Linked DNA regions of Homo sapiens: region 1 is linked to region 2. Evidence: fine-mapped expression QTL. A gene starts in region 2. The other region holds a variant in brackets. All regions are shown on one strand. Distances are from middle to middle. Region 1 has its middle 16 kb from the start of KRT2. Region 2 holds the start of KRT73-AS1 (KRT73 antisense RNA 1).

Region 1 (5,219 bases), 25 kb before region 2:
CAAGTTCAGGAAGTTTCCCTATACTCCCAGTGTACTGGGTGTTTTTATCTTGAGTGAACATTGATTTTTTTCAAATACTTTTCAACATTCAGATGATCATATAACTTTTCTCCCTCATTCTGTTAATATAGTGAATTTCATTGATTAATTTTCAAATGTTAAATTAATCTTGTATTCCTGGAATAAACTCCATTTGGTCATGCTATATTATTATTATTATTATTATTATTTATTTATTTTTTTTGAGATGAAGTCTTGCTCTGTTGTCATGCTGGAGTACAGTGGCACAATCTTGGCTCACTGCAACCTCCGCCTCCCAGGTTCAAGTGATTCTCTTACTTCAGCTTCTTGAGTAACTGGGACTACAGGCATGTGCCACCATGCCCAGCTAATTTTTGTATTTTTATTAGAGAAGAGGTTTCATCATATTGGCCAGGATGGTCTCGATCTCTTGATTTCGTGATCTGTCTGCCTCGGCCTCCCAAATATTAACCTTTTTATACATTGCTGGATTCAACTTGCCATTTCATTAAATATTTTTTTATCTGTCTGGAGGAAGGAACATCTTTGTCTAATAGTCACGAATGCACTCTATAGGCTAGCAGTAGCCCTGAGACGAGACAGAGTGACAAAGTGTGAAAAGAATGAACTTTTACACTGTGCTCTTATACTGTGTTCTATTGTTTGAGTTTTTGTACAAAGCATGTATTTCTTTTACAAAAACTAAAAAGATTTATTTTTTTCAAGTAGCCATCGTGGCAGAGCATTAGAAGCAACCACAGGTTTCTGTTCAGGGTCTTAAGGAAAATGAAGCCAGCAGCCTGCTGAAACAGCTGGGGCCGGAGTGTGCACAGGAGAGGGTTCCAGGACGCACGGGGAGGCTGGGAGCAGAGAGAGGGCTTGGGGACTCCTTATAGCAGACTTTTGCTTTGCCTATTTAGACTGGAAATTTCCTAAGAGATAGAAGAACACTTTCTCAAGTTCATGACCTTGACAGAAGTTTATCTGGGGTCAAATATGCAGAGTACTCAAGAAAAATTATCAGAAATTTTTAAGAAGGTGATGACTTTCACTAGAATCCCAGAATTGCCTGAAAAGGAGGAGAAAAGAAATAGTGGAGACTGTACAATTATATTCTGTCTCGGCCTGGGCACCCACCCTCCTCCTGTCACTTTTGTCATAGTTAATCTCGTTAGCCTTGGCCTGTCCTGTCACCTTGGTCTCACTCTCCCCCTTCTGGTTTTCTGTGACCCCTGCTAAGACCTCTTTCTCAACTCTCTTTAGTGGGGCTAGTGAGGCTCCCACCTCATCCCTGATAAGACTGCCCTCTCCCTGCTTCCTCTCTTCCCCTGAAACCTGCTCAAAGTGCACTACCTCCAAGCAGGGGTCCCAATTCATGTCTCCTCAGCATTTATGGGCCCAACTCAATATTTCTGTATTGAGCTCTTGAATCAGTTGGCCTTGGTTCAAATCCTGTTTCTAATTCTTAACTAGTTGCGTCATTTGGGCAAAGTGCTTCATCTTTTAAACCTCAGTTTTCACTACTAAAAAAATGAAGATAATAACAGTGGCTGCCTCATAGTACTGTTGTGGAGATTAAAGGAGATTATCTTTGTAAAGCACTTACAGTTGTGAAACACAATAATCGGGCAATACATGATACCCGTGCTGTTGCTGTTGCTGTTGCTGCTGCTGGGAAAAGATGTGGACTTAAACATTTATCTTTGTAAAATTTCAGTGGTAAAAACTAACATTTATTTCCACTGCCCCCCCACCCCCGCCAACCCCGAACAGTTTGTATAACACCTTGGTTATGTAGCAAGGACAGGTGTCATTATCACCACATTTGACAGATAGCAAAGCTAAGGCTGAAAAGTCCACAATCACAAAACTAGGAAGTGGTAGAGCTGGCATTGGAAACCACGGCTATGGCTCTTGCATTTCACATCATTTCCACCACATATCCTACCACGTGTTCTTCCTTTGCCTGACTCTCTCCCCAGTGGCCGGGTTAGGGGCACTCAGACAGTGGGTGGGACCGCAGGGTAGGGCCTGGCTAAGCAGGAAGGGTACAGGATCATAGCATGGGGAAGACACCTCTGCTTCTCACCTGGATCCAGAGAAGGAGACTAGCTGAGAGGGGCTGTTGGGCCCTGCCAGGCACGCGTGTCATCTCACAGGTGACTTTACAGGTATGCGGACTCAGGGGAAAGAAGAGAAGGAGGGGCCCAAGACAAGAGTAAGTCTGCACTTCTCTGACCTGGATAAAACATATACAAAGAGAATCCTGAGCCCAGAATATTCTCTCAGGCAGCTGGCCAAATAGTTATGGAGTGACCGAAAGAAGGACCCAATGTTCTTGGCCTGCTTGAATGTTAAAAAAAAAAAAAAATTTATTTCCATAGGTTTTTGAGGAACAGGTGGTATTTGCTTACACGAATAAGTTCTTTAGTGGTTATTTGTGAGATATTGGTGCACCCATCACCCAAGCAGTATACACTGAACCTGATTTGTAGTCCTTTATCCCTCACCCCCTTCACACCCTTTCCCCCTGGGTCCCCAAATTCTGTGTGTCATTCTTATGCCTTTGCATCCTCACAGCTTAGCTCCCACTTCTGAGTGAGAACATACAATGTTTGGTTTTCCATTCCTGAGTTACTTCACTTAGAATAGTAGTCTCCAGTCCCATCCTGCAAATGTTGTCAATTCATTCCTTTTTGTGGCTGAGTAGTATTCCAATATATATATATATATCACAGTTTCTAAAAGAAGACCTGCTTCACCTCCCCATAGAGGAGTTTGAAGCCTTATGGGGCTTGATTGCTTCTGTTGTAAAAATTATACCTGCTTATTATTTTAATCTTGGAAAAATAGAAATATAGAAAATTTAAAAAATTCACCACTACACAAAACAACTACTGTTAACACTTTGATGTATTTTCTTTTTGAACATGCTTTTCTAAAGTATTTAGCTTTAGTCAGTTAAACAATATTTCTCTGCTCATCCTATACCTCCAGTCTTATCCTAGGC[C/A]TTCTTTTCTGTGCCTAGGATTTAGTGGTCATATTGATTATTCAATTTTGATTTTTCCTTTTCCCACTTAACATTAAAACAGAATTTTTTGGTTTGCATAAGCCCAGTAATTTTTATTAGTTATGTAATATTTCATTGGTGGACACAGTTAACTCCTAATCCCTTTTTTGGACACTTGTTTTGGGAAAATATATACAGGATACTGTGTATATTTTTGGTAGGGAGGTGGAAGTAACTCTCACCAACTGTAGAAAATTCCATTTAGTATGTGTCTCTAAATCACTTTCCTTTACAGATATCAGTTTCTAATTCATCAGTGTCTCTGTCCTAAAGCTTTAGGAAGATGTATCTCTGGTTTTAATATCACTCTGGTAGAAACTAAAAGTGCTGAAATAGCAACAATCTCAGAAAATACCCGACCTGATAGCTTTTTGGGCATAATCATACACACCTCATATTGCCTAGGTCAGCAGATAGTTGACAGGTAGACCATAATAAGAAAACCCTGCTAACTAAGCAATAGTTACTAGACTGACTGTTCCCAAGTAGAAGGCTGTATTTATTTTTTTGTCACTTTTAGTGTCAGGGTAGCCAAACCCATGAATTTGTCTTTGGCCCACTGCCAGCTCCAGGAGAGGTATAAGGTGACACCTCAGCATTCTGGCAGGGAAACATGGAGACACCTTCTTCCCACCTCTCTATGTCACTCACTGCCTTGGAGTCACTGTGAGCAGGCAGGTGTATGCTTGAGGTGCCAGAGCACAGGCTTTGGTAGTGGCTGGGTCATGCTGCTGGGAGGGTGCCAGAGACGAGCAGCACAGCCTTGGCAGAGGCTGCCACTCTTGTGGAACAGCACAGAGGGGCACGAAGCCAAGGCTATGCTGAGCCAGGCGGTTATAGCAGCTGGAGTCTCGTTAGCCCTGCGGGGAGAAAGAGCATCTCCATCATCATGGCTGGAGGCCGGGACCATGGAGGCAGACAAAGGAGCTATGGAGGTGGACAGTTTGGGGTGGGAAGCCTAGCAAGGAGGGCTTTGGTCTTGACAGTGGTTTTGGGGAGCATGGGTCTGTAGGTTCTCTGGTCTGCCCTGGAGGCATCCAGGAAGTTGTGATAAACCAAAGCTTGTTGGAGTCTCTGGATGTGATGATTGACACTGAGGTCTAGGAGGTAAAGTAGTAGGAGCAGGAGCAGATCAAGAAACTCAACAAGTTTTCCTTCTTCATTGACAAAGTGAGTGCCCATGCTTGGAGGTTAGAAAGCCGGAGCTGGATAACTTGAGGGACGTTCGGAAAAGGCCTGTTTGCCGTGATGGAAATGTAGCCTGTGGCTACGGTATTGGACAGTGCAGGTCCAGATTATCTGAGGCCAACCACTTTAGTCCCTATCTCTAGAAACTGGCCCTGGTGAAAGGCGCACACTTTGTTTTTCATGTTCTCCAAGCCTCCCCCAGGAGACTGTGTCTGAGCCTCAGCAAATAATAGGGTTAAACTACTTCTGTCACAGCCTGTGGGAATTAATGCCACACTGGAATCACTTGTCACTCTTGCCAGGCCAGCAGGGACTTCTGAAGTCCTCTATGGCTGTCCTCTGGGGCTGAGCCTTTCAAGTTCCTATTTCCAGGTACAGTTCCTGGAGCAGCAGAACCAGGTGTTGCAAACCAACTGGGAGCTGCTGTGGCAGCTGGATGGCAGCTGGATGGCAGCTAGATGGCAGCTACTGCTGCACCACTAGCCCAGAGCTCATCTTCGAGGGCTACATCAGCAACCTCAGGAAGCAGGTGGCCCAGGTCATGGCAGAGAAAACCAGGCAGGAAGTAGAGCTCAAGAACACTCAGGACTCGATGGAGAAATACAAGAGGAAGTGAGTGAGCCTGAGGTTGGTAGGACAGCTGGTATTCGGTCCCAGATCTCGGTCTGAAAGAAGTGCAATGGCAGAGAATTAGCCTCTCCAGCCAGGAATCCTTGGGATATCTTTCTGTTTGTTTTCTTTTTGTGAATCTATTTCTTGTGGATGTGCATTCAGGGGTGTAAGAAATACAGGGAAAAGGGACTATCTGCAGACATAACAATCTTCTTTTTTTTTTTTTGAGACAGAGTCTTGCTATATCCCCCAGGCTAGAATGCAGTGGCACGATTTTGGCTCACTGCAACCCCTGCCTCCCCAATTCAAGAGATTCTCCTGCCTCAGC
Region 2 (5,444 bases):
ATGGTAGTGGGTGGGAAGTGATTCTTTAGATAATTTGGTTTCTCAGATCAAGATGGCAACTTCCTGATTGTTCCTTGCTGTTTATCAGGCTCTTTCTCAAGGGAATCCACACTCTTGGGAGATCTTATCTCATCCCTCTCCCTGCCTCCTTGCTAGCCTGCAGTGGTGGAGGAGAGAGGCTTTCAAGGTCTAGGAGACATAGGCTAGGGCTTCTTGGTAAAGGTTCAAACTCAACTCTTCAGTCCCCAAAGCCTTCCACATTAGTGTTGCAAGCTAGGGTCAGGAATGCCCAGAATCATAACAGTATTATTATTGCTTATTTTGATGATTCCTTTTTAAAGATAAAGAACGTAGGGCCCAGGGAGTTCAAGCTACTTACCAAAGGCAATAGCTGACAAGTGACGCAGCTGGATCAGAATCTAGGTGACTGACTTCAAATTCCACTGCATTTAGGCAGAAAATCAGAAGGTGACTCTGGGAAAGAAGCATTTACTCTAAGGGCTTTGTGTGGCTTGACAGAGGAGTGGCAGGAAGATGTTCATCTGTTTGCCTCAGAATGAAGCTGCTTGGTGTCAGAACCAGTGTACGGGGAGGCATCCTGCTCACACAGCCTTGCGGAGAAGCAGGAGAAGGCCCCTTGTTTAGGGTTGGCACCAAAGATAAAATACAAGGAGTGAAGAGAGAAGCCCTTCTGCCTTCTCTGCTTTCTGGATAACTTGACATCTTTAGGAACAATCCTAAATCTTGGGCCATGCTGGGGTGGAGCACCCAGTGACAGAGACAGAGCAGTACACCAGAGTGCTGAAGGGTCCCTGTTTTGTTTTCCCCTTGAGCCACATTCTGAGTAGAACTGATGTACTCTCTGTGACTGTTTAATAGATGACAACAAAGACAGAAATAATCCCGAATTAGTAGATGACCTAAAATTCATGGCTAGTGGTTTTGGGGTATAGCTGAATCCACCCCCATCATGCACACAAAATGTTCCTCCATGCTAATCCCTCCCTCCATCCCAGCCCTGGAAAGCTGCCTGTGGGCTGGGGCCCAGCTAAGGTATCAAAGGGAGGGAGTCACAGAAAATACAGATGGACAGCTCATTGGCTCACTCATTCATTCATCAGACTTTTTTTGAGCACCAACTAGGCACTATGCTAGGTACTGGGAATTCAAAGTTAAAAGAAAAAGTCTCTGTCATCCATTCATTCTGGGTCGGATGGAGAACACATGGAAACAGGTTCACAATACACTACAGTGTGGGGAGACCTATGGACTGGTGTGCCAGTGGCAACGGAATAGAATTGCACCCAACCAGGGCATCACGGAAGGCCTCATGGAGGAAGGGACTCTGCACTGGTTAAGTTGGAGCTAGCTAGGGAAAAAGGAGGATGGATGGGGGAGGGTTTTTCAGGTCAGAGGAGAGGCTCAGGCAAAGACTCAGAGACAAAAGAACACGTGGGACATCTGGGGGAAGTGTGGGACTGTTTGGCCGAGCTTGGGAGTCAGATAGGTGTTAGGCAAGGGCAGAAAGAAATGAGCCCCTGGATGCCATGTAAGAGTTTGAATTTGACCTTGACTTTGAAGGACGATAGGCAGAGGAACGTCATAATTGGAGTAGTGTGTTATAAAGTTGCCATATGGAGAGTCTGGGACATTCAACAGTCCTTATGGCCAATTCTAACCATCCATGAGATCAGCTGTGCTTAAGGCAAGCAAATGCAATGGCCCAATGCTTTAATGGGAGGCTGCTGATAGACATGGTGAGGCGGGGGACCTGGACCCACCTCTGCCAGGCTCTGCAAGTGCAGGCACAGTCTCTGTACCAGGCTGATCCCAGCCAAGCCCTGAGTCAGTGTTCTTGCTTTGGTTCCTTTTCCTCTAGTTCCAGGAGCTGCAGCTAGCAGCCGGCCGGCATGGGGATGACCTGAAACACACCAAAAATGAGATCTCAGAGCTGACCCGTCTCATCCAAAGACTGCGCTCGGAGATTGAGAGTGTGAAGAAGCAGGTGAAGGGGACTGGAGCCTTCCTTACTCACTCCTAAGGGAGGGGTGAACTGCTTAGCACCCCCTGCCCCCTCCTTCTCTTGAGCATCCATTTCAGAATCCCCTTCTTCAAATGGAGGTCCTGCTCTCATCCCTCACCCTTAGCTCCCATCTGAAGTTTGGAACAATTGCAGATTATTTTCATAAAGCTGTGGGGCCCAGCGTAGCAAGCCTCTCAGTCTCAGGTTGACAGGACTCCACCTGGATGTGGCTGGGTCTCTGCTCCAGGACATGGGGCAGGACAGAGGAGGGCTCAACCATTGAGAGCATGGGAGAGGTGAAGCGAGGCCCAGGGAGGAACTCAGGGAGAAATGCTACCTCCTGACCCCAGTGTGCCAACCTGGAGACGGCCATCGCTGACGCCGAGCAGCGGGGGGACTGTGCCCTCAAGGATGCCAGGGCCAAGCTGGATGAGCTGGAGGGCGCCCTGCAGCAGGCCAAGGAGGAGCTGGCACGGATGCTGCGCGAGTACCAAGAGCTTTTGAGCGTGAAGCTGTCCCTGGATATTGAGATCGCCACCTACCGCAAGCTGCTGGAGGGCGAGGAGTGCAGGTGGGTGGGACCGAGGGACTGGAAGAAACTGCAAGTCTCCACCTTAAAGTTTCCCAGAGTGTGGTTGGGGGCGGGGGGGAGGGGGCGGCGAGCTGGCGATGTGTTTACTTCACCCACAAGCATAGTTTCAAACAGCATCCTGCCAGATAATGTGACAGCAATTTCCTTTACAGTTCTCTTTTGACTCTTTGGAGAAAGTCTTAGCTGGGTGCTGTTGTGTCTTTAACACCTCTCAGATGGCCAGGCGCAGTGGTTCGTGCCTGTAATCCCAGCACTTTGGGAGGCTGAGGCGGGTGGATCACCTGAGGTCAGGAGTTTGAGACCAGCCTGGCCAACATTGGAGAAACCTCGTCTCTACTAAAAATACAAAAGTTAGCTGGATGTGGTGGTGCATGCCTGTAATCTTAGCTACTTGGGAGGCTGAGTCAGGAGAATCGCTTGAACCCAGGAGGCTGAGGTTGCAGTGAGCTGAGATCCTGCTACTGTCCTCCAGCTTGGGTGACAGAATGAGACTCCATCTCAAAAACAAACAAACAAACAAACAAACAAACAGACAAAACACAAAAACACCTCTCAGACACTTACAAATATCCCCTATTGATAAAGAGACAGTAGATCTCAGGTGCAGCATCTCTGGGAAAATAATAGCATTATTTAGCCCAAAAGTTTTAAATTGTTTTCTTTTCATTATATTTATTTTTACTGCTACTTTTTTTCTTATTTGGTTAGGTAATAATACTGGTTTCTATTTACCCTGGTGATAAAAAACTTCTTTTTAAAAGAAATGCACTTTTGTCGTAAAAGGCAGAGTCAATTAAAAATACTAAATATCTAACAGTACAAGTCAAACATGGTCCTAGCAACAGTCAGAAGGGTGGCACACGAAGCATGAACATTTGAAAAACCCTGTTCTAACCAAGCACCATTTTATAACTGAGACCTGGAGAGAAGTCACTTGCCCCAAAATCATACAGTTCGTTCATTAGTAGCAACTCCTGATCCTGATCTTTCCACATATGTATTTATTCAGACAGCTGCTCACAGTAGTAAAGAAATGGGTTCAAGAGAAACCCTGCAGGAGGGACCTTGGGGGTGGTAATGTTGTTGGGGGTTCCAAAGTTGCAGGTTCCACATCTCTGCAGTGGGAAGAGTAGATTGAGGAGCGAGAGGGAGGGCTTAGAGACATGCAAGGGCAGCCAGTGCCATCTGGCAAGTGTGGGGTGCGTGAAGGCTGAGCTGGTCTGGCTGGGGATCCCCAGCCTGTGTTTAGGCAGTGAGGGCCACTATGGGAGTCCACGTGATTCAGACTCTCCTGTGCTTTTCTCTCTTGCAGGATGTCCGGAGAATATACCAACTCCGTGAGCATTTGTGAGTATTTCATGACTCTGAGGGAATACTTTTAGTCCATCAACAAACACAAAGTGGGTGGGTGTCCACCGCCCAGCCCCCTGAGGAAGAGCTTGGCTCTGCCTGTTGACCACTTGGTCACATACTCACCTTCCTTGCTGAGACCTGCGGCCTCCCCATTCAGAGCTACTTCTTCCAGGTGGAGCTAGTGCCCAGGACATTCTGATACTGCACACTAGCCTCTTTCATAGCAATCTCCTGCCTGCTGTGGTGAAACTCTCAGCCCCTCCCCTCTTCTGTCACCCCCACACCGGCTCTCCTGCATGAAGGAAACTGAGCACAGAGTGGTGCCTCCTCAATGGGAGTGGAGACTGGTGTGTGGACCACTGTGCAAGCCAGTTTAATGCTGGCCCCACAGGGTTTGGCAGTCTCTTTCTTATAGTGGGACCAGCAGAAACTCCCTAATTTTAACAATCAGGAAATTCTTTTGAAAAATACTCAGAAGGTATTGTAAAGCTAAATGCAAGAACCTGCTGGCTTATCTGATGCTCAAGCATCATCTGTCCCCTGGGGAAAGCCCTTGCTACTCCTGTTTGTTCATAGAATGACAAGGTGACTGACTTGGGAGTCTTGCAGGACTGGGGCTATTCTTCCCGCGCTTGAGTTGCTCAAATGAACCCAAGTTCATGGTTGATGGGAAGTGTTTGCTTAAGAAGGAGGTATTTAAGCTAGTGGGGCTGGGAGGTTGGAGGGGGACTTAAGGCCACCTCTGTCCTGGGATATACACTGATCACTCGTCCCTCCCTCCTCTGCAGCGGTCATCAACAGCTCCATGGCCGGGATGGCAGGCACAGGGGCTGGCTTTGGATTCAGCAATGCTGGCACCTACGGCTACTGGCCCAGCTCTGTCAGCGGGGGCTACAGCATGCTGCCTGGGGGCTGTGTCACTGGCAGTGGGAACTGTAGCCCCCGTGGGGAAGCCAGGACCAGGCTGGGGAGTGCAAGTGAATTCAGGGACTCCCAGGGAAAGACCTTAGCTCTAAGCTCACCCACCAAAAAAACCATGAGATAAAAGTGCAACACAGCCCATTTCCCAGTAGTCTGCCTTGCCCTGGCAGACTGCTCCGGACTCTTCTAGGAAATTCCTCTGTCTCATTTGTCCTCATCTCCTTCTTGCTTTGCTTTGCTGTGGACCTCTCCTCCTTCTCCTTGACCTCTCTGCCTCAGTCTTTGTTAATGTTGAATCAGGATTTGAGAGCTGGAGCCCATCTTTCTGCCTCCATCCAAAGAGGCCTTTTAACTCAGCCTCCCCTTCTGGAAGAAGACTTGGCCTTTTCTCTGCCTGCATGTCCCTGTGCAGAGGAAGGCTGTCTCTCAAGGGTAACCCCAATCTGCCTGTGCTGCTCTTTCATACCCTGTCTCAGTAACTATTTGGCCATGTGCTCCCTGGGTACACAAGTTTTCAGATCTACTGATAGACCTGCAGGAACTCTCTCATGTTAG

Evidence for each region. PIP is the estimated chance that this variant, and not a neighbour inherited with it, causes the effect.
Region 1: its variant is fine-mapped to the expression of KRT73-AS1 in whole blood (TOPMed, PIP above 0.99).

Annotation. Positions count from the first base shown.
Region 1 is chr12:52,633,134-52,638,352 of GRCh38, reverse strand. It overlaps the pseudogene KRT128P. Among named protein-coding and RNA genes, the nearest start is that of KRT2, 16 kb to the left of the region's middle. The variant C/A (reference allele first, on the strand shown) is at 3,032.
Region 2 is chr12:52,607,765-52,613,208 of GRCh38, reverse strand. It overlaps KRT73-AS1 (KRT73 antisense RNA 1), which reads right to left and starts at 3,358. Exons shown (of 3, transcript NR_126005.1): 1 at 1,782-3,358; 2 at 380-868. KRT73 (keratin 73) reads left to right here. Exons shown (of 9, transcript NM_175068.3): 6 at 1,880-2,005; 7 at 2,374-2,594; 8 at 3,928-3,962; 9 at 4,757-5,444. The coding sequence ends at 5,013.